Homo sapiens: one gene and its partners. The protein of the gene in region 2 purifies or fractionates together with the protein of the main gene of each other region. This does not show direct contact. Each region holds a gene or a part of one and is shown on either strand. Other genes may lie near its edges. The genes, in order: FMR1, WTAP, CALD1 and PAICS.

What was found.
Region 1: the proteins of WTAP (region 2) and FMR1 purify together in Homo sapiens (affinity purification with mass spectrometry; 2 studies listed by BioGRID). This does not show direct contact.
Region 3: the proteins of WTAP (region 2) and CALD1 purify together in Homo sapiens (affinity purification with mass spectrometry; 2 studies listed by BioGRID and IntAct, with this or other methods). This does not show direct contact.
Region 4: the proteins of WTAP (region 2) and PAICS purify together in Homo sapiens (affinity purification with mass spectrometry; 2 studies listed by BioGRID and IntAct, with this or other methods). This does not show direct contact.

The regions. Positions count from the first base shown.
Region 1 is NC_000023.11:147,942,892-147,949,919, reverse strand, and holds part of FMR1 (fragile X messenger ribonucleoprotein 1), read right to left. Parts: intron 6,790-7,028; coding exon 6,594-6,789; intron 5,052-6,593; coding exon 4,869-5,051; intron 4,387-4,868; coding exon 4,304-4,386; intron 1,238-4,303; coding exon 1,076-1,237; 3' UTR 1-1,075.
Region 2 is NC_000006.12:159,737,506-159,744,533, reverse strand, and holds part of WTAP (pre-mRNA-splicing regulator WTAP), read right to left. Parts: intron 5,545-7,028; coding exon 5,489-5,544; intron 4,676-5,488; exon of another isoform or gene 3,092-4,675; coding exon of another isoform or gene 3,087-3,091; intron 2,447-3,086; coding exon 2,388-2,446; intron 870-2,387; coding exon 742-869; intron 1-741. UniProt on the Homo sapiens protein: Associated component of the WMM complex, a complex that mediates N6-methyladenosine (m6A) methylation of RNAs, a modification that plays a role in the efficiency of mRNA splicing and RNA processing.
Region 3 is NC_000007.14:134,929,613-134,936,640, reverse strand, and holds part of CALD1 (caldesmon), read right to left. Parts: intron 3,654-7,028; coding exon 2,564-3,653; intron 954-2,563; coding exon 876-953; intron 1-875. UniProt on the Homo sapiens protein: Actin- and myosin-binding protein implicated in the regulation of actomyosin interactions in smooth muscle and nonmuscle cells (could act as a bridge between myosin and actin filaments).
Region 4 is NC_000004.12:56,439,234-56,446,261, reverse strand, and holds part of PAICS (bifunctional phosphoribosylaminoimidazole carboxylase/phosphoribosylaminoimidazole succinocarboxamide synthetase), read right to left. Parts: intron 4,600-7,028; coding exon 4,402-4,599; intron 1-4,401. UniProt on the Homo sapiens protein: Bifunctional phosphoribosylaminoimidazole carboxylase and phosphoribosylaminoimidazole succinocarboxamide synthetase catalyzing two reactions of the de novo purine biosynthetic pathway.

The DNA of each region.
Region 1 (7,028 bases), on a different chromosome or scaffold from region 2:
TAGACAAAGTACCTGTACTTTGCAGGATTATTATGCATACATGGAAATGACCTTCCTATCTCTCCAAAATAAGCTTGAAATTAAAATATGAAAAATTTCACAAAACTTGGGGCAGACAAAATTAAAAAAAAAAAGCTCTAAGTTAAAATTGGTCATCAGGCCAAAGAGCAGGCATATCCTACTAACTTTCGACCAGGAAGATTTGTTCCTAGCTGAAAACATTTTAGCCTCTCTCAGATGAAGATAGTTCTTTCTTCTCCTGTCTATACAGAAAAATTACACATCTCTCTCAATAACACTATTTATCAAACTTCAGTGCAACAAAACAAAAACAAAAACAAGTCCTATTCTTTATACTGCCTAACCTGATGTTTATGTAAGGAAAAAAATATGGAAAGCATGCATTCTTCTATAAAGTACTAATGTTTGACAGGGTTTGCTACATCTTTAACATTTAGTGTTTCCAACTTATCTTCCCTGAACTCTGCATCCAAATATAATATTCCTACCTGCCAAGATATAAAAAAGGCACAGATCATACAACTTTTTTTGCTAATGAAAATGACAAATGTCACATCACACACATTTCAGGGTCCACTAAAATACTGGAAAAGTGGACCAAAACATAAACTGACACAGGACATGAAATGACATAGCATTTCATGAAGACTTCTATACGAGATTGAAAACAGAAGTCTAATATGATTACCATAAATGCTATATATTAAGAAAAACTGAGAATGTACTGGTGAATGATCACCCAATGCAGGAAAATGGTCCAAATTAACAAAGAATATCACTGCTCAGTACTTTAGAAAATAAAACTAAAATCTGCCCTGAAGTGCTAAGTAGTTTTAAAAGCAATGTTTCAAATTTTAAGGTATCTTTTTGTGCAAATCTGAAAATTGTTGCTTATGGCCAATACCAAAAAATAAAAAATTCTTAGCATAATTTGTGTTCATTTCATGCCCTGTGCCATCTTGCCTACTATTTGTCTTTGGCCTAACAAAGTTTTCTAATATGGAATAAGAATTACGGAAATGGTATAGGAAATATAACTTCAGAATTATGCAGTTTAGGGTACTCCATTCACGAGTGGTTGCTGACCATCCACGCTGTCTGGCTTCTCTTTCTTCTGGTTACGATCTTTACCCGTGCGCAGCCGACTACCTTCACTGGAGGTATTCTGTAATGTTTTAGTGTGGACACTCCTTTCATTATTGCAGTCAACTCTGATCTAAAACAAGTTATAGTTGTTATATACACAGACCATATCCTACTGTAATCTGTAATTGGCCTGACAAGAAATTTAAACCTGAAGTGTAAATTCCACATGTTAAAAAGAGAAATGGAGATGAGAACAGAAGAAGTGCAAGAAATTAATGTAAGGTAGGATTCTTTATTTGGTTTATGATTTTAAAACACTCTTCTTCTTTAACTGGAACACACTGGTCATCTCACTGCATCCAAAGTTAGAGAAAAACTCACAATCCTATCATGTCTTCTTCTAAGTAGAATAAAACAGTGAGAAACAAACAGGTAAAATGAATTACTATTACTGATTACCAGAAGACATACATGCCTCTAACACTAGAGTTAAAATAAAATTAGTTATTCTCCAAAGATTGTGAAGCCCAGGAAAAGAGAAACAAAATGTTTTCCTATTCTGGCTTTACCCTCAAATAACTCACTAACTAGACTTTAATTTACATCTTTATATCTATCACAGGTATGATCAAGTTTCTCTATACTGAGAGCTCCCATAGTCATACAGTAGAAAAACACGAGCTTTGGTTTCTACTGGCTTGTATTTCACTAAGAAAATTCAGATGATCCTACAACCTGAACTCTGTCTGAAGAATGGAACAGTATAAAGAAAACTGCATATAATAATTTGTGGAAGGACTGGAATCCTAGGAGAGTATAAAGATCAATGTAATTTAAAAAATAGTGTTCTAAGAGCTATAAAATATTTTAAGTGCCAATGCTGAATACAGCACTGCTAATTCCAGAGGTACAAATGAAAGTTAACAGTGACAAATGGAACTAAAACAACTACAAATATTGATCTACTTCAAGCACAAATGCTAAAAACATCCCCAAATGGTTGTAATTTCAAAGTATGTTTAAGTAGTGGGTATGTGCATGTGTTTTAAATGTCTCGTTACCAAGGATTCAGTACTTTGATTTGTATCTTTTTTTTTTTTTTTCCCAGACAGTCTCGCTCTGTCGCCCAGGCTGGAGTGCAGTGGCGCGATCTTGGCTCACTGCAAGCTCCGCCTCCCAGGTTCACGCCATCCTCCTGCCTCAGCCTCCTGAGTAGCTGGGACTATAGGTGCCCGCCACCATGCCCGGCTAATTTTTTGTATTTTTAGTAGAGATGGGGTTTCACCATGTTAGCCAGGATGGTCTCGATCTCCTGACCTTGTGATCCACCCGCCTTGGCCTCCCAAAGTGCTGGGATTACAGGCGTGCGCCACCGTGCCTGGCCCTTTTTTTTTTTTTTTGAGATGGTGTTTTGCTCTTGTTGCTCAGGCTGGAGTGCAATGGCAAGATCTTGGCTCACTGCAACCTCTGCCACCTGGGTTCAAGCGATTCTCCTGCCTCAGCCTCCCGAGTAGCTGAGATTACAGGTGCCCGCCAACACGTCTGGCTAATTTTTTGTATTTTTAGTAGAAATGGGGTTTCACCATGTTAGCCAGGCTGGTCTCGAACTCCTGACCTCAGGTGATCTGACCACCTTGGCCTCCCAAAGCGCTGGGACTACAGGCGTGAGCACCGCGCCTGGCCAGATTTGTATCTATTTTCATACTTAATAGAGAAAACATCACCTTTTAAATTCAGTATTCCATTTCATTTAGAAATATAAATGTGCATCCTTTTAACCAATGCAGTTAGACTGCCAAGTTCATCAAACATATCAGTTTAAGTGGAAAATTACAAAACGGGTACTTAAATATCTTATAGCTTTGTAAAAGACAGGTACATACAGTAATTTACCAATCTATCTATCCCTTGGACATGCTGGTCCTTAAGAACCCACCAATAGTTAACACTTACTTTGAGCTGCTATGAATTCCAAGAAATATTCCATCATAAACTTTGTCTTAAAAAGTATCTCTCACTAATCTTGGGTGATGGTCCCAAATGAATCCATAGTCAGGAAGGAACCCTAACTACTTAATAATTAAAAGTTACAGAAAAAGTAGACGACAACATAGATTCAGAGAATCAGACACTAAGGTTTGACTATCATTTGGACATATGCTAGCTATGTGACTGTGGGCAAAGGACTGAAGCTACAGTGCACTCACCTATAAAGTGGAATAATAAAACTACCTCAGTGGGTTGCTGTAAGATTAAATGAGATAAAACATACACAAAGCACTTAGCAAAGGTGCCTGGATGTGCTCAGGAGATAATTTTAAAATTATTTAACAATTGGTTTAGCACTGGTGACAGCCAATTGAGAAGAGATCCTCGGACTAGGTCCTGGCTGTAAATAAGCAGATGACTGACCAAGCATGGAGACTAGCTGAATATCATCAGCTCTGTCTATCATGATTATTAGTTGTAAGACAGACACCTTCTTTTCCTTATTTTCTATTCAAAGAGAATACCCTATCCCTGTTAATTTGGGGGAGCAAAGACACATAAGGTTTACTGAGGTCTCTAAGTACATCCCAGGATGTTCCTTCTCTGGGGGATTGCAGGTCTACCAATGTGGTATTAAAATCATAGTGTGGCTGGGCACAGTGCTCACGCCTGTAATCCCAGCACACTGGGAGGCCAAGGTGGGCAGATCACCTGAGGTTGGGAGTTCAAGACCAGCCTGACCAACATGGTGAAACCCCGTCTCTACTAAAAATACAAAAATTAGCTGGGCATGGTAGTGGATGCCTGTAATTCCAGCTACTCAGGAGGCTGAGGCAGGAGAATCACTTGAACCCGGGAGGCAGAGGTTGCTCTGAGCCGAGATTGCGCCATTGCACTCCAGCCTGGGCAACAAAAGCGAAACTCCCGTCTCAAAAAAATAAAAATAAATAATAAATAATAAAATCATAGTGTGGCTGTCAAGGTCTTCACAAATACTCAGACTGCATATTCTCTAGAGAAATCCTCTTATTTGTATACTTGTCACAAAGAACTAAGATTGACTACAATTGTAATGTTGAAGGTAAAATATTTCACATAAACTGGATTTGTAATCTTTGAACATGTTTTTAATAAAGTAAAATAAACTCATAAATCTCAAACTACCATATTCAAACAATTAAGATGAAAAGAGGCAGACAGGTTTTACCTGAAGGGATCCATCTGTTGTTCTTCCTTTAGCCTCTCTTGGATTACGTGGACGATTATCTGTTCGGGAGTGATCGTCGTTTCCTATGAGAATATTTTCAAAAGGTTCAACAGTTACTGATTCTGAAATGCTTACTGGAAGTTCTTTATTCCCACACCCTCTATTTAAACCAACCACAGAATCTGAAATGTAATCAATACCCCAGTGATTCCAGTTACACAATGGCTAATAATCTAGCCTGCTGCTAAGTAACAGAAAATATTTCACAGTTATTATAATTCTGCATCTACAGGTCAATGTGAGTTAATGAAGGGATGCTGTTTAGACCCACCAAGATGCTGAATTAGTTATCAGCATTTATTCATATATCTGTATGAACCATAAGGAAGGCTGCCTAATATTCTTTCTTTCTACACAAGTGGAAGGCTGATCCTTTCCTATGGTATCAGCACAAAACGGGAGAGATGGGATCTTGGTAACAGTTCATTGCATCAATAGGATTTCTCATGGAACTTCAAGACAGCTGTTACAATTCACTTTGATTTCTTAATGAAGATCTCCATACCTTTGAAGCCTCCTCCACGTCCTCTTCCTCCTTGTCCTCTTCCTCCCCCTCCACGCCGCCGTCCGTCTCCTCTGCGCAGGAAGCTCTCCCTCTCTTCCTCTGTTGGAGCTAATGACCAATCACTGAGTTCGTCTCTGTGGTCAGATTCTGTTTCAGAAGCATTTGATGCTTCAGAATTAGTTCCTATCGAGAGTTAAAAGTTATATACCATTGTCTGACTTTAAAAAAAAAAAAAAGAGGGTTAACAGAAGCTTCCAGAGACGTTTCAGGGGTAATCCAAAACTCTTCCCAATTTATAAGCCCACAAAGAGTATTATCACTTTCCATTTCATAAAACAAAATTTTAAACTCAAAATGAAGGGCTTTGCAATATTTGAGGTTAATTTTGGTTATAAACATGTTTCATTCTCATTTTTAAAAAGGTATGTTATTAGCCACCTAAGTTCAAACCTTGATGTGCCATATCATTAAATAGCTGTGTTCCTTTAAACATCTATACTCTCTGGAGGAAAAGATTATCCACGACAGTTAAGTGTGATACCCTGATAAACAAAACCTCTAAAAAGAGAGCTCCTTTTAGCAAGATTTGGCCCAGGACAGAGGGGAATGTATATATTTTGGTCATTTCTGAGAGGGTGGCAAAGGAGGCCACCATGGCAACTGCTTCAGGGAAGGGTCTCTTGTGGGTCATGGATTGGATCTAGCTGAAGGCAGATACATGCTTGCCTGATGTTTGGTCCACAACCTGCCCTCCCACTCCCATTACAATAATTGATCATTAATAAAGAATTACTATAATAAATTCATTATGCCTGAAGGGGTTAACGACTTAGAGGACAGGAGCGGAGAAAAAGAGCTCCACGGTGAGGCAGAAATTCATGAGTAAAAAGAACAGACTGTTGGGAGAGGGGTTAGGGGTTAGGTTCAAGGTTGGCCTTAGGAGTAGGTAACTCTCCCCAACTCCAGAATATCAGCTCTACTACCTCTCTCTTCCTCTGTTGGAGCTAATGACCAATTATAGCTTCACCATTATAGCTTCATTCCTGTGGATCTTGAAGGCTTTTCCATCTTAAAGAGTTCCTTTTTGAAATGCAAATATGCGTGAAATGGATTATACCTTATACCATCATTAGCAAGTTACAAAGGAGATACACTGTTGAGCAAGAAAGACAGTAGGCACTGGCAGGTGGGGATCAGGTTCACTGAAAGGTACTGGGAGAGAAGAAAGAAGCACGGACAGAAAAGCTGGGAAGGCAAAGAGAAACTTCGCCTACTTCTTGACTGTGCCTAGGGCTGACTTTGGCCATGTCACTCAAAATCACCTTATGAGCCACAAGAGGCAGACCCCTGATTTACACAGTCCATCCAGCAAGTATGACCAGCACATACCTGACAAAATAAAAATGAGCCACAGTACACAAATGAAAAAAGTTTTGACTATACAGTTATAAAATCAGGAGAGGCCTTAAGAAAATCATCAACACACAAGGGCTTTGCAGATTTACCCCCAATCAGAGCATGAACAGAACTTGCACCGGCCCTGTGAACTCTACGTGTTTATCATCAGGTTTTTACTCTATGTCTCCTGTAACACAATTTAACCCACTGTGAATTGGAAACCATGTAGCGGCAAATTGTTATAATGGGGTTCTAATGAATATTAGAGATTAGCAGCTATAAGTCTAGGAACAGATAAAGTTACTGAGTAAAATGCTTAGTTTGTACCTGAAGTATATCCAGGACCGCGTCTGCCGTGCCCCCTATTTCTGTAAGGTCTACTACCTCGACCCATTCCTTGACCATCATCAGTCACATAGCTTTTTTCCTTATCTGTACGATTTGGTGGTGGTCTAGAACTAGCTCCAATCTGTCGCAACTGCTCATCAATTTGTAATCTCTCCAAACGCAACTGGTCTACTTCCTATTTAAAATATACAAGATAACAGTAAAAATAATTTGACATTTTACTTAATAAAACCTTTCTCCTTTTCATCAGATAAAAATATACTGGAATATTTCAATTTCAGTTCTAAATTTACAGTAAACACTGTTACACAGAATTATCAGGAAATTGAATGATCTCCTTAAAAAGAAAATTACTACAGATAACAGATTATTGATGTCAAGAATTAGAGATATAACAAAAACACTCAGCAGTAA
Region 2 (7,028 bases):
AGAACAGGACTGTGCCCATAGATTTTTGGTGTCTCCAATGACCAGAATACTATCTTAGAAGACTTTAATAACACATAAGAAGACTTCTATATGTACCAAATGAAGGGAGAGTACACAAAGAATTGAAGAAACATTCAGATTTTAAAATCAGAAACAAGGATACAGCTGCCTCTAATTATTTTGTATAATTACACCGTAAGATTGAGCCTAAACTACCAGAGCTGGATGATCAATTATGTCACTAGATTTCAGATCTACGTAGACATAGTAAATACTACACAGTACACATCAAAGTTCTAACAATTAAAAAGGAGACACTAAAGAGGTTGCTGACACTAGGAAAAACAGTTCTATACACAGAGGGGACAAGAGAACAGAGATAAAGTCCTCAGATGGCTTTCCTAATCAGTGAAAGTAAAGCAATAAAGAGCAAATGTTCTTTTATTGATTACATCCTCAGACACCAAGATATCTGAAAAATGTCTGGAATTGATGAACTAATACTTATAAGGCATGAAAATTTCAAAAAAAACTTAAAACTTTGCCTTCTTGGCCACAAAAAACAGTCTAAATGAGACATTATCAAAATTTTTCATCTAGTATTCTTAAAGCTCAAAGCATACGTACCTATAAAAGATAAGCTCTTATATTTAGCATTAAATGTTTAAAATTAACATGTAATAATGTGGACTAAAAACCAATTCCTCAACTAAAGACATTTATATAACTTGAAATACTTACAGTACACTCTTGCATCTCTTGTTCCTTGGTTGCTAGTCGCATTACAAGGATGTTTTCCCTGCGTGCAGACTCCTGCTGTTGTTGCTTTAGTTTTTCTTCAGACTCTCTTAGGCCAGTTACATCATTAGCTGATGATTCAAAAAAAAATTATAAATACAATTTTAAGATCAAGTTCTAAATACCTCTGTCAAGAACAATAAGAACTAGGGTCAAAAAATTAATCAAGTCTTTAGTTTCCATCCTAACTACTTTTATAACAGGCGAATTTCTTCCTGGTCACGAGAGCTCCTTTAGGAGACAATGGTGTCATAGTGCTCCATGACTACTAACTAAATTATGTTTTTATAGTTTCATCTACTCCCAACAGAAGACAGAAAACATCTGTGTTATACAGTATTCACAAAATCCTGATTAGTATGTTTTAACCTATTTAATATAAAAATGCTGTCTGGGCACAGAGGCTCACGCCTGTAATCCCAGCACTTTGGGAGGCTGAGGCAGGTAGATCACCTGAGGTCAGGAGTTTCAGACCAGCCTAACCAACACGGTGAAACACCGTCTCTACTAAAAATACAAAATTAGCCAGTCGTGGTGATGCATGTCTGTAATCCCAGCTACTTGGGAGGCTGAGGCAGGTCAATGACTTGAACCTGGGAGGCAGAGGTTGCACTAAGCCCAGATTGTGCCACTGCACTCCAGCCTGGGCAACAGTGCGAGACCCTGTCTCAAACAAACAAATAAATAAATAAAATAGTAATAACTGCTGGACAATTTGTATTTTAAACTTGAGGCAGGATCTTATTCTGTTACCCAGGCAGGAGTCCAGTGGCACAATCAGGGCTCACTGCAGCAGCCTTGACCTCCCGGGCTCTAGTGATCCTCCTGACTCTTTTTTTTTTTGTAGAGACAAGGTCTCCCTATGTTGCCTATGCTGGTCTCAAACTCCTGGGCTCAAGTGATCTTCCCACCTTGGCCTCCCAAAGTGCTGGGATTATAGGTGTGAGCCACTGTGCCTAGCCTTAAACTTTCACAATGTTCATGACTTCTATGGGTAACACAGTCACGCAAAATTAGAATTTCAGGGTATTAACCCTTCTGAAGTTACAAAACAATATATATTGGTTTTTATACTCAACAAATAGTATGTGATTCAAACAGTAAAAAGTGAGACTAAAATGGCTTAAAATGATAAACGTTATTTTCAGCAGATTTAAAAAAATCTGTATATATTATTAAGTTATATATATTGATTTAAGCTGTCATAAATCTGTTACTGGTTGCTTCTGTTTATTTCTCTTCTAGACTAGTAACTCATGCTTCAAGTCAAATTCCTATGCAGAAGGGGTTAGGGACAAGTAAGAAAAGTTTCAAGTAGTTCTGAGTTACTGCATCTATATTCAGAACCTTGCATATAATTTTGCTAAGTCATGCCATTACATGACTATTACACCTCTGTCTTCTCCAATGACTGAGACTGTGTCTCATTCATCTTTATATTTTCTTGCACCCAACACAGTGCCTATGTACAGTTCTTATAATAAAACACGAGAAAAATTACATTTGCTTTAATAAAAACAACTATCCTTTTGATTTTAACAATCAAAAGGAGATTATTCAGTCTTTAGGAAGCTAAAACTCAAACTTACAGTTAAGATCTGTGTACTTGCCCTCCAAAGCTTGTACATATGCTTCATATTGTTTCCATCTAATAAAAAAAAATCCATACATTAGTTGTTACGATAAAATAGTTTATTAAATAAACTAGAAGATATCTATAAACTCACAGATTTTAGTAATACTGAGCATTCTTCTGGATTTTTCATTTTAAATCTAGTTTTTTTTAGACAGAGTCTCGCTCTGTCCCCCAGGCTGGAGTGCAGCGTGGCGCAAACAGGGTCTGGGCTCAAGCGATGTCCCTGCCTCAGCTTCCTGTATAGCTGGGACCAAAGGCACATGGCTCATTTTTTTGTAGAGATGGGGTCTCACTACGTTGCCCAGGCTGGTCTTGAACTCCCGAGCTCAAATGATCCTCACACCCTGGCCTCCCAAACTGCTGAAATTACAGGCCTGAGTCACCACACCCAGCCTAAATCTAGTTTAACTGATCATAAAATAGTCCCTCATTATTCCTTCCCATTTTACAGGAAACAGGTAAAAAGAGATATATAGAGAAGGTTTTTTCTGCTGAGAACATGCCAAGCATGCCCTGGGTGAGATCAAACCCCAGATTCACTTTGATATCACTGATGTTCAGGATAATCCTGGATTATAGAAGCTGAAAAAAAAATCCCACTGCTGCTTTCATATGTTGTCCACTTAGAACAAAAGGCATATTAGAAATGTGCCTCATTATGTAGAATTGAAGGTTCTTTATCTTGGCTCTTTTGGGAAAATACCATGTGACTCTTCTCAAGGTAGTATCAATTTCTGCCTGTAAACACAGGGGGAGAATATAACATTTTTCAAGACTGTAATTTAACAATCACATCTAACTGTCAGAAACCTGCATAAATGCCATATGCTATCAGAATACAAGGGGACCGTTGTTCTTCATTATACTTCTCTACCCTGAATATATACACTGCTAGGTCCTCTTAGCAATAAAGATTTTTCCTAGTCTTATTAGGCAGTTCCTAATGGAAAGCACCCTGCCCTGAATGTCTGCTATCCTGCATACTTAAGAGCCATGTTTTCAAGCTGCTCTTCAGGTACAATTAATTAAAATTTGGCTTTAGAAAACCATTTTATAATCTTAAAAACAGGCTTGTCATGAGTTATTAATATTACAACATAATGAACAAAAAGGCTCGTGCCTGTAATCCCAGCACTTTGGGAGGCCGAGGCGGGCAGATCATGAGGTCAAGAAATCAAGACCATCCTGGCCAACACAGTGAAATCCCGTCTCTACTGAAAATACAAAAAAATTAGCAGGGCATGGTGGCGCATGCCCGTAGTCCCAGCTACTTGGGAGGCTGAGGCAGGAGAACCGCTTGACCGGGAGGCGGCGGTTGCAGTGAGCCGAGATCGCGCAACTGCATTCCAGCCTGGTGACAGAGCGAGACTCTGTCTTAAAAAAAAAAAAAAGAAAGAAAAAAGAAAAAAAAAAAACCTTCCTAATACCAAACTAATCCACTTTCTATGTAAACACTGATGTTCAGCCAAGGCCATGCTTTATTTTTACGGCACTTACAACCTAAGACACGTAGTTTACCAAATATTTGGGGATGTATAGAGAAAGATCTTCAGTGGAGGCTATAAAAGAACGATTTATTTTAGAAGTACAGAAAAATATAAAAACTGAAGCAAGAACATGTATATCACAAGGATAGAAGGCACAGACTAGTTAAATAAGTAGCAGCTGGTTTAAAATCTCCAAGGGAATCAAAGAGAAAAAACTCGCCTAAAAGTCTTACATGAATTCCCTAAGGAAAGATGTTAAACTGACCTCAAGGAAATACACTGCATATGATTTAGAAACCTTAAAGGTATCTTAAAATAAAACATTTCTATGATTCTTTATTAAGATTACTGATTTTTCCCCTCCTACAGTTAAATCAAAAAAATGACTGCACAGACTAACCAGAGCAATTATGTAAGAAGGCATTAAAAAAAGTATACAATGCCAGAGACAGGGAAAAAAAAAATCATGGCCAGGCATGGTGGCCCATGCCTGTAATCCCAGCACTTTGGGAGGCCAAGGTGAGAGAATCACTTCAGGCCAGGCATTCAAGACCAGCCTGAGCAGCACCTCACCTCTATTATAATTTATATGCACATTAAAACAAACAAAAAAAAACCCAGCATTGAGTAGTAGTGTATCTTAAGTATATACTTCAGCATAAGACAGAAGTGTTTTAGAATAACAAAAATTTAAATTTTATGTGCAGAAAGACAAAGGTATGCAATGGAAACTGTCCTATGTATGAGATTATGGCAAAAAAAAAAAAAAAAAAAAAAAAAAAAAAAAAGGTAAAAAGTGTGTTCATAATACAGTAGCTGTCCAAAGGTGAAAGTAGGAAATTGTCACACTCTAGGAAACAACAAAATCTGTGTTAGCCTATCTCACAAAACATCTTTTCTCTCCTCCGCTTTCAGCCTGTTAAAATACTTATTTTATTTTTATCTAAGTTATCAAGAAACTTACTAACCATAGCAATAAAATACAGAAAGAATATATTTAAATTACAAAACACAGAACATCCTACTTCCTGATTTCTTACACAATCTAAAAAGATTATACGTTGTACTTGACAATCTGCTTTTGTAAGACATTTACAAGATAACCGCAGAAATTCAGAACTGGAAGTCACCTTTAACAATAACTTAACCCAACCTCTTCAACTTACAGATGAGAAAATGAAGAGTATGAAGTTATATGAGCTGGTGAAGGTCACACTAATAAGAAAAAGTAACCTCACTTCATTAGTAAATTATGTATTTCTTCCATAAATATAAGTGCATCTTTTAGGATTACATTTCTTTTTCAAATGTTAAACACGAAAGGAAAAACTACACAAAACAAGCCATATATTTGTTAAACTTATAGCTTCCTAGTAGTTCTTTAAAGTGTTACGTTTTCCTCGGTGTTAATATAAGAAATAGGTCATAGTATGCTCAAAAAGTACATTAAATTATTTGAGGATAGAACAACATTAAAAACAATATCTGGCACAAAGACAATTACAGTGTAGAGTCACAATATAATGTTCTATAGAAAGACTTTGTTTTTGAACAGAGAACATTTTACCTTAGAATTAACTCATCTCTTGCCATAACTTTGAAGTCTGTTTCACTCAATCGAACCTATAAAGAGAATTACAATATGAATTTAGTGTTCTTCCTGAAGACACAAAGTTCTATAATGAGACCTATGAAACATCTCCCAAGTGTGAGATTTAAACGGCTCAGTACATATTATGATTTTTTGAAAAAGTATTTTATTACAAAAGTTTTTTTTTTTTAAGGTAAACTATTTGGTATCTTAACAATGGGCATCATCATTAGGAAAATGCACATTAAAACCCCAGGTATCACCACACACTGATTAGAATGGCTAAAATAAAAATTAGTGGCAACACCAAACGCTGGTGAGGATTCAGAGAAACTGAAGTTTCCTACACTGCAGGTGAGAATATAAAAATGGTATCTGAAGAAGTATGGCAGTTCCTTTTATTAATACAACTAAAAATGAATGTGCCATATAACTCAGCAGTTGCACTCTTAAACATGTATCTCAAAGAAATGAAAACATGCAAGCAGCTTTACTTGTAAAAGCTAAAAAACTGAAAACTATCCAAATGTCCTTTAACAGGCAAATGATTGAACTATCATACAGCCACACCATGGAACACTTTAAGCAATAAAAAGAAACAGGACTACTGATACATGAAACAATTTGTATAAGCCTTAAGGAAACTGTGCTAAGTGGAAGGAAAAAAAATAGTCTCAAAAAGATGCATACTACATGATTACATTTATATAACACTCTGAAGTAACAATTATACAAATGGAGATAAATTAGTGGTTGCCAGGGGTCAGGCATGGAGAGGGACGGGGTAGATGTGGCTATAAAAGAATAACTCGATGAAGCTTTATGGTGATAGTTCAGATATGTATCTTGATTAATGATGGTTACACAAAGCTAGACATGATAATAGTGCATATAGCTCTTCCCCACTTCCCCCAATAACAGTGCTAGTATAACGTGAAATGTGAATAAGCTCTGTGGATTGTACCAATGTCAATTCCCTGATTTTCACAGTTATTAGAGATGTCTGCTAGTCACGCAAGGTGTTAACAATGAAGCAGGCTCAGTGAAAGTTGCACAGAACCTCTCTGTACATTTATTTGCAACTTCCTATGAATCTATAATTATTTCAAAACAAAAAGCTGAAAGAAGGGCATAAGCTAACATGCTTCAAAAATTGAGAAACAGTATATTCACTACACCAAATAAAGGCTGTAAAGGTGAGATACCTCTCCTACCTCAGTATAAAATTAAGGCTTTGGCTGGGCATTGTGGCTCATGCCTCCTGCACTTTGGGAGACTGAGGCGGGAGTATATCTTGAACTCGGGAGTTCAAGATCAGCCTGGGTAACATGGCAAAACCCCATCTCTACCAAAAAATACAAAAATTAGCCAGGCGTAGTGGCACACCTGTAGTCTGAGCTACTTTGGGGGGCAAAGGTGGGAGGATCGCATAAGCTGGGGTATGAGGCCACAATGAGCCAAGATTGTACCACTGCACTCCAGCATGGGCAACAGAGTGAGACTCTGTCTCAGAAAA
Region 3 (7,028 bases), on a different chromosome or scaffold from region 2:
TTTTGAATTTTCTTAATAGATGCCATAGTTTTCTTAATAGATGGGTTGGAGCATGTTGGCTACAAATCACTTCACCAGTCTCATAGGCGAAGAACTTCGGGTCTTCCTACTTCAAATAATTCAGTTTCACCACATCCTAATAAGTATTGTGAACTTATTCGATATAGTCACAATTTTTAAGATTATTTGGGGCAAACACAGCATGAGAGTTGAAGTGCAATCAAGTGTTCTGATGTGGTGTTCTGATTACTGTCAAACCCCGTGCCATTCTATCTGTATAGCTCCTTGTTCACTTACCTACAGTCAAATACCCTGGCACCCGCTCCTGTGTGTGCCTCAGAAATGCAATGCAGAACATTTGGCCAAACTTTTCTTTTGAAAACCAAATATCATCTTCAGTTCACCATATTTTCTACTGAGATGTGTGTGGGTGTTTTTCCTTTGAAAAGTTAAAGCATTAATCAAGGCCAGTTGGAAATATTTCATGATTGAAATGAAAGTAGAATGGCTCAAGGAAAAAAAATTAGCATTCAGAAGAATAGAAAACAGGATAAATTGATTCCAGCAGTGTTTTTCAAGCCTTTTTGATGACGTCCCACAGAAAAAAAGACAATTTACCTGACAATGCAATACTTACTACCTACAATGCCCTCTGATGGCTTCTATCCATTTCATTTTTTAAAAAATGCTGACTGATACATTTAATTAATTTTGAGACACTCTAAGCTGATCTCACTATTCAGTGGACTGTGAGTCATGGCTTGAAATACACTGGATATGAGGTTACAATTTTGAGATCATCAGACCTGAGATATCTTGGAACACTGACTGCTTTTTCTGTTGCTTTACGATCATTACTTTTCAATCATATTTACCTCTTCTTTTTTGAAGGTAGGCTTGTCTTCTTGGAGCTTTTCTCTTTTAGCTTGCACTTTAGTTCCCTTCTCTTCTCCCTTTTTATTTTCAAGAATGGTAAGGTCACACAAGTAAAAGAAGCCCTTTCTAGTTTACAAGAGTGACAGGGTGCTCGGATCGCCTTGCAAGTGCTGCGTGGGATGGCTTCTCTTCTGCCGTCTCAGCGCTCACAGCACAGTGGTTCTAAACAGCAAGGTGGGATATTTTCTTCCCACCCCAACATCTTCTCGTGTGCCTGCCATTGCGCTCACTGAAATCTAGCATGATGTGGCACTCCTCGTGTGTTTACAAACCTCGTGTGTGGTTTGGTGCACTTTGCTCATGGTCTCAATTTTAGCTGTGTTCATGAGCCTCTTGTACAGAAGCAGGAGTTAAAGATACCTTCAGTGCAATGCAGGCTTAGTGACAGAGAATTTGCTCTGGAAAGGTGAATGTGAAAGCATCTCTTTTTTTCTTTTTTTAGGAGTGGTGGTGGTGGTGTGGTGGTGATTAGGTACAGTGCTTTCAATGCAGTCTTGCAGACAGAAAAAAAATCTTTCTCAAAGCTTACAAACATTTCCCCCCTACTATTTCCACCCTTCCTCAGGCCACATGAATTTGTGTCACCCAGATAATAAAGAAGCAGCATGTATGCTCTTAATTACCAGTCAAATATAAATCAATACTACCCTAAATTAATGGCTTTCTGCAAGTCTACATTAAGCTGAGGTCTACATGTTGGCAAATCAGGGTTTTGACTTTTTTTTTTAAGGAAAGTTTCCAACCAGTTCCTTTCCCCCTCTTTATTACCAGTTAATTTCCAGGGGTTTGTTTTTGCCTTTTTGTTGTTGTTGTTGTTTTTGTTGTTGAGATGGAGTCTCTCCCTGTTGCCCAGTGGAGTGCAGTGGCACAATCTCAGCTCATTGCAACCTCTGCCTCCCAGGTTCAAGTGATTCTCCTGCCTCAGCCTCCTGAGTAGCTGGGATTACAGACATGTGCCGGTACACCCAGCTAATTTTGTATTTTTAGTAGAGATGGGGTTTCACCATGTTGGCCAGGATGGTCTCGATCTCCTGACCTTGTGATCCACCCACCTCAGCCTCCCAAAGTGCTGGGATTACAGGTGTGAGCCACTGTACCCAGCCTGTTTTTGCCTTCTTAAGATGAAATGTCTGACCATTATTCTTCATGTCTCTTTCCCACCCCAGCTTTTATCATTTTTTTAATTCAACGTCAAACCCATGAGTGAGGTAAGGAGTTATGGGCCTCTTGCCTCATGCAGACCTATGGATAGAGGAAAGATAATTAAAAGAACGAGTTTAGATGCAAGCACAGAATCAGAAGCCAACACACCACCACCACATTTATCATCTTTGGATTAATTCTTTTTTTGGGTATTCATAACAATCAAGCACAGAGCAATTAATTTCTCTCTGTCTTCTGGACAGCCAAATTTACTGGCTGTCCCAGTAAATTTGGTTGATTGAATATTCAGCCATCAATCAATTGCTGCATGCTTGTGTATCGCTATGGCCTGAAAAAATGAACAGCTTGCCAAATGATCAAGCATGTGAGCTATATGCATGTGGCCTCAGTCCCAAATCAGATGTGCATTACATTTCTCACAAGTCACAGGCATCACACATTTGGTGCAAAATGTTTACTGTACCTGTTTCTTTAGGACAGCTGTCTGAAGTTTATCTTCTTGTGCTTTCTTTTCATTTACCCATTTCCCTTCTATTTTCTGTTCTACCTTTTCCCCTTTTATCTTTGTCTCTTGCATGGCATGTTTTTTCTCTTCTAGCTGCTTGTTACGTTTCTGCTCTTCTACCTTAGCCTTCTCTTCCTCCTCTGCCCTGGCCCTTTGCCTCTCCTCTGCTGCCCTTTTCTCTTCCTCTTTTATCCTCTGCCTCTCCTCTGCTGCCCTTTTCTCTTCCTCCTTTATCCTCTGCCTCTCCTCTGCTGCCCTTTTCTCTTCCTCCTTTATCCTCTGCCTCTCCTCTGCTGCCCTTTTCTCTTCCTCCCTCATCCTTTCCCTCTCTTCTGCCTCTCTCCTTTCTCTTTCTTGGGCAGCTGCTTTTTCTTCTGCTTCAATTCTTGCTCGTTCATCTGCTATCTTTTTGTCTTGCTCGGCTTTAATTCTTTCTCTTTCTTCTGCTTCCAACCTTGCCCTCTCTGCCTCAGCTCTTTCCTTGTCTTCCTCTTCCATCTTTTCATGATGGGAAATCTCATCTGAACCTTGTTCCCTCTCCTCCTCTTGTTTAGGCTCTTCTGAACTGATCTGCCCATTTTTTAATGACATTACCACTGTTTCCTCCTGGCTTTCAGTTGTTTTCTCTTCCACCATCACCTCTACCTGATTTTCTCCAATGCTCCCTCGCTTTGGCTTCTCCTCTTCCTCCTCCTCCTTTTCCTTGTCTTCTTTCTTGTTTTCTTCAGCATCCCTCCAATCATTCTTCTGGTAGGACTTGGTGACTGTTTCTGTTTCCTCTATCTCGTATCTTTCTTGGCGACTTTCACTTTTTTCTTCCTTCTCGGTAGTTTCATTTTCTGCTGTGTCATTTTGCATTCTTCTGCTTGGGAGCGACAGACTTGCATCTGTTATTGTTGGGTCGAACTCCTTCTGCCGCTCCAGAGCCTCCTGAAGGCGTTTTTGGCGTCTTTCCTCACGCCGAGCCAGGCGCTCCAGGAATGCGGCCTCATCATCCCCTTCCACTTGAGTGTTTGTGGTGGTTGTCTTGGCCTCCTCGTCAGGCACACTGTACAACAGAAAGAACAACACCAAAGACAGCTTGCTCATTCATCAGTCAGCAGCATTCATACAGCCTGTGCTACCCAGGACTACAGCAGATGCCAGTAGTGCCAAGCTTGCCCATATCCCCAGTACGTTACCATTTTAGTACACGCCTGCCTGGCTTTCAGCTGACAGCATTTGCAAGCCTTTCTCTGGGGACTGGAGTCTACTCAACATGCCAGAAGTGCTTTCGGTATTAATGTCCCCTGGGAGCAGTTTTCAAACAAAAATTGATAGCCTGAGTGTTTAGATACCTCAGCACCCCTCACTTTTTGAGTGGGATAACTCCGAGGTGTGTATTCCACACTGGATCTCAGAGTTTCCCAGTGGAGTGAAGCTCCAGATACCCACAGTGGTGATGTGCTTGGTCATGCAACGTTTATTTGGTGGCCTTCCCTTTTCTGTCTTACCTTCCCACACCTCCACCAGTGTTTCCTAGCATCACCTTACAAATAAACGACTTGCAGTCAAATCGTTGTTTCTGGACTTGCTTCTTGGGGAATTCAAACTTAAGGATCAAACTGAAATAATAAGTGAATTCCTTCCATGTCATGTAGTATTCTCCCATGTCATCAAGTCATCTAGAATTCCTGATCTGGATTGGAGGCTCCCAAGGTACTTTGAGAGGAAGAAAATGTACATTACAGTGTTGAGATTCCACACTCACGCCAGTGACCCCAATGGAAGAGACATCTAAGTGTCCCTTACAATTCCTGCTCCTCCTTCCATAGTTGGGGGGAGTGATCACCACTCAAGGATTAAATTTGCACCCTCTCCCTTCTTTGCACCTAGGCGGGCCATGTGACCAATAACTGCCAATGAAATGTAAACAGAAGTGTCCAACCAAGGCAATGAACAAACAGAGGTGCACTCCCTGTCTTCTCTATCTCTGTCTGTTGGTAGATCAGGGAGCACCAAGCCCTAGGGATTGAGAGTCACAAGAGAAAAGAAGACAGGTGGCTGGTTCTACCAACTAGACAGAAATATGCATAATGGTAAGTGTTACTGCACTAAACTTAAAATTTGGGGGCACTAATCGTTATAGCAGCCAGCGTTACCCTAACTAATGTATACACAATCTACCTTCTTTGTCAAGATTTCCATGAATAAAGGGTTTCTTGTCCATCTTTTCTACAGTGGAAAAAGGGCAGTTAAATTTGACATTTATTTTAAAAAGGAAAGAAAATCTCCAAAAGTTAAACTGTTGTCCATCACCTCCCTCACTACTGCAGGATGCTGGACACTGTCCAAGCCAGGGTGTTGGTTTCTATTTGCAGGAAACAACCAGTCATGTGATACCAGAACTGTGACCAGAGTTGGAAGAATTTGTCTTGCAATGTTTAGAAACTCCATCAAATTTCATAGTTCAGACCAAACTTGGCCCTTTCAACGTTCAAATTCACTTAATTTTGGAAAAAACACATTTCATATTTAACAATGAAAATGGCAGAGTAAAAACTAGCTTTAAAACTTTCTTGGCCTTTACTTTTGCTTCAGGATATTGCCTCCATGAAATTAGACATATAAGGATTAAATGTCCCTACAAATGCAAAAAATTTATAATTTAAGGGGAAGTCTATAGAGGGGCCATTTGGATCAATTGAATTCTAATAATTTTTAAAAGGCACCAAAATTCCAAAGTGCTAGCCAGATTAAAGTACTCTTATGCTAAGAAACCAACAAACTGTATTGAACATTTCTTTGCCTATTTATAAATCATGACCACAATTATCAGTAGATATCAAATGCCAGTTAGAGTTGTTTAGCCCCAAGAAGACTTATTCTTCTTGTGGCTAACTAATATGTCAGAGATAAATCACACATTCTCAGACCTCAATATGATTTTCTAAAAAAAAAAAGAATTTGATTTCAATTAATAGCATGAAATAATGAATAACAGCCAAATATCCGAAGAGAAGCACAAGGAAAAGCAAGATTTTAAAAGCAAGAAAACTACAGATCACCAGTAATTTTTAAAGCTCCTGTTGACCACTCATTAATAACAAGATTCAGGAAAGGCATCAAAATGCCATTTTTAAAACTCTTTCTATTATTTCTCTCTCAGCTTGAAAATGGAAAAGGCAGTGAATGACTACGTTGCCCTCCCGTGTTAAGAATCTGGTAACAGTGAAAATTTATTGAGTGCTTACTATGTGTAAGACACTGCATTTTACATGTATTGTTACATAGTTTAAGTTTAGCAGCATTTTTTGGAGAAAGGTATAATTTTTATTTCCATTTAACTGAAGAAATACAGTTAGTGAAAGGTCAAATTGGGAGTCAAAGTCAATTAGTGAACCCTAGAAATTATACCTATTTCCCCTTTGCTATACCTACTCCCCAATTAGAAGCTACTTATTGAGGGAAAGGGTAAACAATATTGTGCTACCGGCCAACATTTTCAAGACTGCTTTCTGAAACCTTCTAATACAGCCTCTCAAACTTGGGTTAAGGAGGCCAGGACCCATTCCCTTTAGAATTTTCTAAATAGACTGAATTAAACAAAACAAACTAAAACCAAAACCACATGTGAGATCTTATATAGTGTAACCATTATAATCAGTCCATGGTTTTAAATTAAAATTATTTTCTCCATTTTCCTCCTCAAATATCCTCATCTTTTTTAGACCTTGGGGCACATAAATGACAATATAAATGACATATACTAACCATTAGCATAATGAACCATGTGACCTTATTTCTGCTGCAAAAGCCCTCTTTGAAGAAGTTGAACCTATTAGGCATTCTCAAGTTCCCTGATTTCAACCAGGGCCCGAGTGAGAAAATACGTAATAGCAAACTCATTAAGTGTGTTTGAATAATCACATTAAATTAAGCGGAATTCTGTATCTTGTTGAATATTATAATGATCAGAGACTATTGATTCAGGCTGTATATTAGAAAAAAGAAGACATCTGCAATTCATGCCCACTTTAAAAATTCACGTGTTACCTATTAATGGTAGCCATGGAGGACTCTACTAAACTAACATATCTTCAGTTCAAAACAGATAGCAACACCCTACAGAATAAATGTAAATACTTTTCCTTATTTAAAGATATAACCTACCAGAAAACAGTATAGATTCCTTAAAGAACTAAAAGTAGAACTAACATTTGATCCAGCAGTCCCACTACTGGGTATCTACCCAGGGGAAAAGAAGTCATTATATGCAAAATATACTGGTACACGCATGTTTATAGAAGCACAATTTGCAATTGCAAAAATATGGAAGCAGCTTAAATGCCCATCAACCAAGCAGTGGGTAAAGAAAATGTGGTGTATATATATATATATATATATATACACACACACACACACACACACACACGTATATATA
Region 4 (7,028 bases), on a different chromosome or scaffold from region 2:
TGGGATGATGAAAAAGTTCTGGAAATGGATAATGGGATGAATGTACAACATTGTGAATGCACATAATGCCACTGAATTGGACACTTAAAAATGGTCAAACTGGTAAATTTTATGTATTTATCACAATTTTCTTTTAAAAAATATCAGGAGCCTATTTTATGGCAGATATTGTTCCAACCATTTTAAATACATCTTTTTTGTTTAATCCTCATAACATTTGATAAGATACTATTAAGATCAACAAAACAGGTAAGGACACTAAGACACAGTAGTAATGTCAGCTAGTATTAGGTATAGCAGGATTTCCAACCTACCCTGTCTCTAGGAGCCGCCCACTTAACCACTTTGCTGTATTGCCTCTCCTGGAAGTGTTATTACATCACAGTACAAAGTAATGCTACAGCATTAACATGATTTAAAATATCTCCTGGAAACCTACATGGGTTTGAGATAATGCTTATTTTCAGCCTGCATTACTATTTCCAATCCCAACCTAATCCTCTAGTCTAACTTTTATTATCAGGAAAGAATTGGGGATCTTTGCTGTTATATGTGTATCTGTACATGAAGGGAGCTTCTATTTATGGAAATCCTCCACTGTGCTAAGTGTCTTATATATGTTGTCTCATTTAACTGTGCATAAAATTTTGAGGTAGGTTTTTTTGTTTTTTTGGTTTTTTTTTGAGACAAAGTGTCACACAGGCTGGAGTGCAGTGGCGTGATCTTGGCTCACTGCAACCTCCGCCGCCTGGGTTCAAGAGATTCTCCTGCCTCAGCCTCCTGAGTAGCTGGGATTACAGGTGTGCACCACCACGCCTGGCTAATTTTTGTATTTTTAGTAGAGACAGGGTTTCATCATGTTGGTCAGGAACTCCTGATCTCGTGATCTGCCCACCTTAGTCTCCCAAGGTGCTGGGATTACAGGTGTGAGCCACCGCGCCTGGCCTTGAAGTAGGTATTATTATTTATACATTTTACAGTGAAAAAAACAGAGGCTCAAAGAAGTAATTTCACACACTAGGTCATGTAGCCATTTGGTAATGGAGCCTGGACTTGAAACGCACTGTCCAAACCCTACACTATTTCCTCTGCCCTCTCTTTGAATCTGACTCGTAAGACTCAAATGAAAAAAAGAAAGAATTGTGGTATGTTGCATGAACAGAAACCCTAAGGAAAAAATGAAAAGAGGGGAAGTAAAACTGTCATTTTAACCTTTAAAAAAAAATTAGATGCAATCTGTTGTTTAACTTTTAATGAATGATCAGGCTCATGGATAGACAGGTGACTTCAATCAATTCTCAACTTGGGGTGGTAACTACATCCTTGGTTTCAAGAGCTCTTCTCTCTTAGATCTGTTAATCATTAGTCACATATTTGCTCATTTGTCTACCAAGCTGGACACAGTAGTATCCAATTTTATTGTTTTTAATATAAAGATAACTTCGTCTTAGAGAGATCCCCCCGCCAATCCCAAGGAGAACCAAAAGCACATAATGAAGCTACAGTAATCATCTCTGCACAAAAAATCCCTAAAAGTTTCTAAAACAGACTCAGTTTAGATGACATAATGATGGCTTCTAATACTGCTAAATATGAAAGCAAATTCCATGACTGTGCATGGTGAGAAAAAAATTCCCATTGTTTATCTTAGTTGTCTACAAAGCTCAAAACTCTCATTCAGGTTACTAAAAAATGTTTATGTCACTGACACACTCTGGATTACAATGAACATATATTAGCTAGAATAGTAATTCTAGCTAATACATATGTCCCCGTGGCCATCCCTCTTTTAGATTGGTCCAGATGCCCATCTGTGGTTTAGCAACTGTAGTACCGTTCTTCATATACTAGTATTACACTTAATGTAATTATAGTGAGTTTCTGTGAGGAAATTGGGATTTCATCATCACTAAGAAGGCCAGATTTTAATTTTTAAGTAATAAAACCAAATCCACAAATTGTATAACACAGTTATAACACAGTTATACTATTTCCACGGAAAAAGATTACTTCTTATTTATATAGTCCTTTACAGTTTGTTCCTGAGTGACAATGAGAAAAGTAGAATCCTGATTTTCTGATTCTCATTCCAATGCTCTTTCCTCTCTACTTTCTACCTTAATTTGGAACACAACCCAGGTTGTAAAGAAAACAGTTTTAAATAGACCACTGATGGCCAACTAGATAAGGCATTTATTTGACTAAGCAAGTAAAAATTACATAAGGTTTAATGGAATTCCTAATATGTACCCTAAAACTAGTCTGTTTAGAAATTTTAAAAAATTCAGGTTTACTTAGTTTCATAGTACTAGACATAAAATCTGGAAAATATCTTTCAACATTTCCTGTGAACCAGTTAAGTTTTAGCTATGTTAAGTGCCAAATAAAGTAGTTTAAAGATAATTATTGGAGTATTTCATTTAGGTAACCATCCTTCCCTGTTCCCCTGATCACAGGACTCTTCAGAATTAAAGCAGAAAGTCCTGGACAAACATAACACAACTGAGTCACTCTAATTTACTTGTTATAAAGTTCTGGAAATGGATAATGGGATGAGTGTAAATACACTCAGAAAATACACTAAATAAGCAAATAAAAAGTCAGGCTTTATCTTCCATTACTTAATATAATCCTGTAGCTATGTGAAACTACCAAGGGTACACAGAAAGTAATCTTCTGACTGCTAACATTTTAAAGAGTTAAGCACTTTAAAAAATGTTTAAGTGAATGGGGAGAGTTAAAACTTGGGAAGAAAAAAAAAAATCGATGGAACAGGCCGGGTGTGGTGGCTTACGCCTGTAATCCCAGCACTTTGGGAGGCCAATGCGGGTGGATCACTTAAGGCCAGCAGTTCGAAACCAGCCTGGCCAATATGGCAAAACCTCGTCTCTACTAAAAATACAAAAATTAGCCGGGTATGGTGGCGTGCACCTATAACTGTAATCCCAGCTACTGGGGAGGCTGAGGCATGAGAATCGCTTGAACCCAGGAGATGGAGGTTGCAGTAATCCGAGATTGTGCCACTGCACTCCAGCCTGGGCAACAAAGCAAGATTCTGACTTAAAATAAATAAAAAAATAAAATAAATAAATAGATGGAACACTTATCGGTATTGCAAAAGGAACCCAAAATTAATTTGATGCTCTCTTTAGAAATTACCTCAGTCATTGGGAAGCTACCAATCAAGAAACCTTGAAATAAAAATCTTAGATTCTGTGACTTAGGAACTCTGGAAGATCCTTTAAATTTACAGCAATACACTCACTTTCACAGCATAGAGGAATTTATGATGTAGATGACAATCCAGGTTTGCAATTAAATCTTTTTCACATTAATCAAAATTGTGAAATAGGATACTTTGGAAGAGACAAAACTACGCCAAGAATGCACTGACAATGTATTTAAATTACATTACCTTGTTATTTTGTGGAAGGCACGTACATCTAACTTAACTGAAAACAAAAGCATTAAATCCCCTGTTGAATTTAAGAAAGATTAGTGCTACCAGAAACTCTAAGAAATGAAAGGGCAACTGGGAATATTGGAATTAAAAGTAAGGAAAGTTATTAAATTATAAAATTAGAATTGGCAAGAATGATAAAGAAAAAGCTTTTATTTCATAGGTAAGGTTTCGTAGGTTGAATGATCCAAAGCAATGAGGCTATTTACACTGTGTGGCAAGAGTTCAAATCTTTTCCTAGCTGAAATTTCATATACTACAGACCAACCAGCAACTGACTGAATCCCTGCAGAAAACCCCTTTATCCTAATTTCCTTCCCTTTGCTTCAAATACCCACCACACAATGTTCTGATCTTCATTTGGTCTTTTGAATCTATTTCTCTATTGAAAATAGAGCCTTCATTCAGTTTTTGAACAGGAGGGCGCTCTGGGGTTTTAGTTCAAATATCTCACTTGGGGAATGGCAGGAGGAGAAGGTTTGGTTGCTGTCTTCAACTACTTTTCAGGGCTTTCAAGTGGAAGAGGAATTTGAAATTCTGTATTATCTCCCAGAGGCAGAACAAAGACCATTTGTATAGAATTACAGGGAGTAAATTTCAGTTCTTCATGTTAGAACTGCTTAACATTAAAATGGGTTTCCTTCATAGTTAAATTCCTTAAAGTGAAGATGGCCTTGGAGAGGTAAGCTGCACAGAGAGTGCATGTGCCAGATAAAGATTACAGCAAACTTGTTAAGATTCCTTTTAATTCAATGATACTAATAATCCCAAACCAAATAAGGTGTTATAGTGAAGTTTAAGGGTTCTTGGTTTGATTTAAATTCACTTAGCTTTTGAGACATCTGCAAACAAGTTGTTCATATTAATGCCAACTTCACATGAAAGACATCGACATGCTTACCAGAGAAGGTGAGAGAAGAGACTTTGAGGGAGCTGCTTACCTGCTTCCTGTAATAACTGAAAAATACAACTGGTGATTTTATTTGAGATTGCAGCTTTTCCTTCCAGGTGGTTTTTTCTAGCTGCATTTCCTGCTGTAATCTGGTCCTTGGACTGCAGGAGGACTTTTCCTGGACTGTCTAACAATTCGTAGACTTCTTTTGTTTTACCCTCATATAATTTTTTACCAATGTTCAGTACTGTGGAAATAAAATGGAAATAGACCAAAATTCAGAAACTTCCTGAATGCTGAAGACTAAATCACCTAGAACAATTAATCTGTAAATATACAGTGATTAAGTAATATTAATAAAAATTAAATCATCTGTATAAAACCATATACTCTACAATGTATTTCTCATACCATCACATTTGATTCACATGATCTTGTGAAGAATTTTAATTACATAAATAATTGTAGAAATTAGTAAAGCAGAAATCAAAAGGGTTGAGGGTCATGCAGTTAGGAAATATAAGAGGTAGATAAAATCCTAACTCCTCTGACATCAAATCCTGTGCTCTTTCCACTATTAACCTGCCTCTCATAGCAGAACTGAACTAGAATTAAAATTAATTAAGACCCACTTAAAGTAATGTAACTATACTAGTATTTTCACAGACACACTCACAGTATAGTATCTAAACTATCTTGCAGGAAAAAATATGCGATTTTTGCTGATATTTGCTTTTTTGTAGGCAAAATGGGAACATTCAGCCAGATGAGTTTCTTGATTTCAAGTTAATATTCAAGAGGAGGCATGCCATCCCATTGAAGTTAGCACATTTGGAAGCATCCCTCTCTATTTCTTAATCCTGTCCCTGCCCCCATTAATCCTTTCTCTTCACTAACAGTTGTAAGAAATTGTGAGGAAGTGAGCACAAAGGAATCCAATTTTGATGCTGGTCACAAAACCTAAGAAGTACACAAAAGGATGATTTAGAGAAAGAGTAAAGATAACAGATGTTTAGGAACTTAAAATTTCGAAAGAGAGAAATCAACCCTCATACTTCCACAACACTCTCAGTATCAACATTTTCCCGGTGTATCCATGTGCCAAGGGATGTACCAGTAAATAATAATTCCTGCTCTCAAGAGACCTGAGTCTGAGGGGAGCTGATATTAAATAAGACATCATAATAATAGAATGCAATAAATACAGACTATGGGACTAGTCTAGACATTAGAAAAAGAAGTCTACAAGAAAGTGACAGGTTGAAATCTGAAGAATCATCGAAATTTAGCCAAAGGAGAGAAAGGGGTAGGTAGTGTTGATGAATAAATACAAGGTGGTCAAAGTGGATTGCAGAACTTCAGTCTGGTTGGAGCTGGAGCTCTGGGTATATGTACATTGCTGTTGGGCAGGGGAAGGGGTGGGGGCTGCAGCTAAAGAATGGCAGGAGACAAGACTTAAGAGTTGGACAGGGGCCACATCACCAGCTAGTGGAGGTAACCATTAAACAAAGTAGTTGTAATTTAGTTAACAGTTGCCACTGTAGGGCACCTAATTTAGAGGATGAATCTCTACCCTCCCTAATGTAATGTCTAGACTCATTAACATGGTTTAAAAGTCCCTTTAAGATACAGCCCTGGCTTACTGCTCCAAACTCTTATTTGTCTATTTCCTATCTAGAACTCCAACATCTTTAATTCTTATACAATCTTCCCCTAGCTTCTGACAATCTCTTCTTTCCTAGGCCTGGAAAACTTCCCTTCCATTTTGCTACACATCCTTCTTGTTTCACAAGCCATGCTGATTGAGTTTAGACTTTAACCCAAGAAGAGCTATAAGGCTTTTAAGTGCTAAAGCAAAACGCTATTTGGAAAGATCATTACGGCTTCTGTATGGACAATGAAGGGAGGAAGGGGTGAGTGAACAAAAACTAGAGCTTGGAAGACCAGTTAGGATGCTGTTGCAGTAACTTGAACAAGAAACGTCTGGCCAGGTGCAGTGGCTCACATCTGTAATCTCAGCACTTTAGGAAGACAAGGAGGGCAGATTGCTTTAGCTCAGGAGTTCAAGACCAGCCTGGGCAACAGGGCAAAATCCCATCTCTACCAAAAAAACAAAAATTAGCCCAGCATGGTGGTGCATGCCTGTAGTCTCAGCTACTTGGGGAGGTCGAGGCCGCAGTGGGCCAAGATTTGCACTATTTCACTCAAGCCTGGGTGATAGAGTGAGACCCTGTCTCAATAAAAAAAAAGGAAAAGAAAAAGAAATGTCTTGGTCTAAGGAAAGAGTAGTGGGCAAAGATGCAAGATATTTAAGATAGTAGCTTTGAGAATTCATCATGGAGGATAAAAGAGAGGGAAGGGTAAAGAACAGTGGGCCGGGAACAGTGGCTCATGCCTGTAATCCCAGCACTTTGGGAGGCCGAGGCGGGCGGATCACTTGAGGTTAGGAGTTCAAGACCAGGCTGACCAACATGGTAAAATCCTGTCTCTACTAAAATTACAAAAATTAGCCGGATGTGTTGGTGCACGCCTGTAATCCTTGCTACTTGGGAGGCTGAGGCAGGAAAATCGCTTGAACCTGAAAGGCGGAGGTTGCAGTGAGCTGAGATGGCGCCACTGCACTCCAGCCTGGGCAAGAGAGGGAGACTCCGTCTCAAGAAAAAACAAAAACAAAAA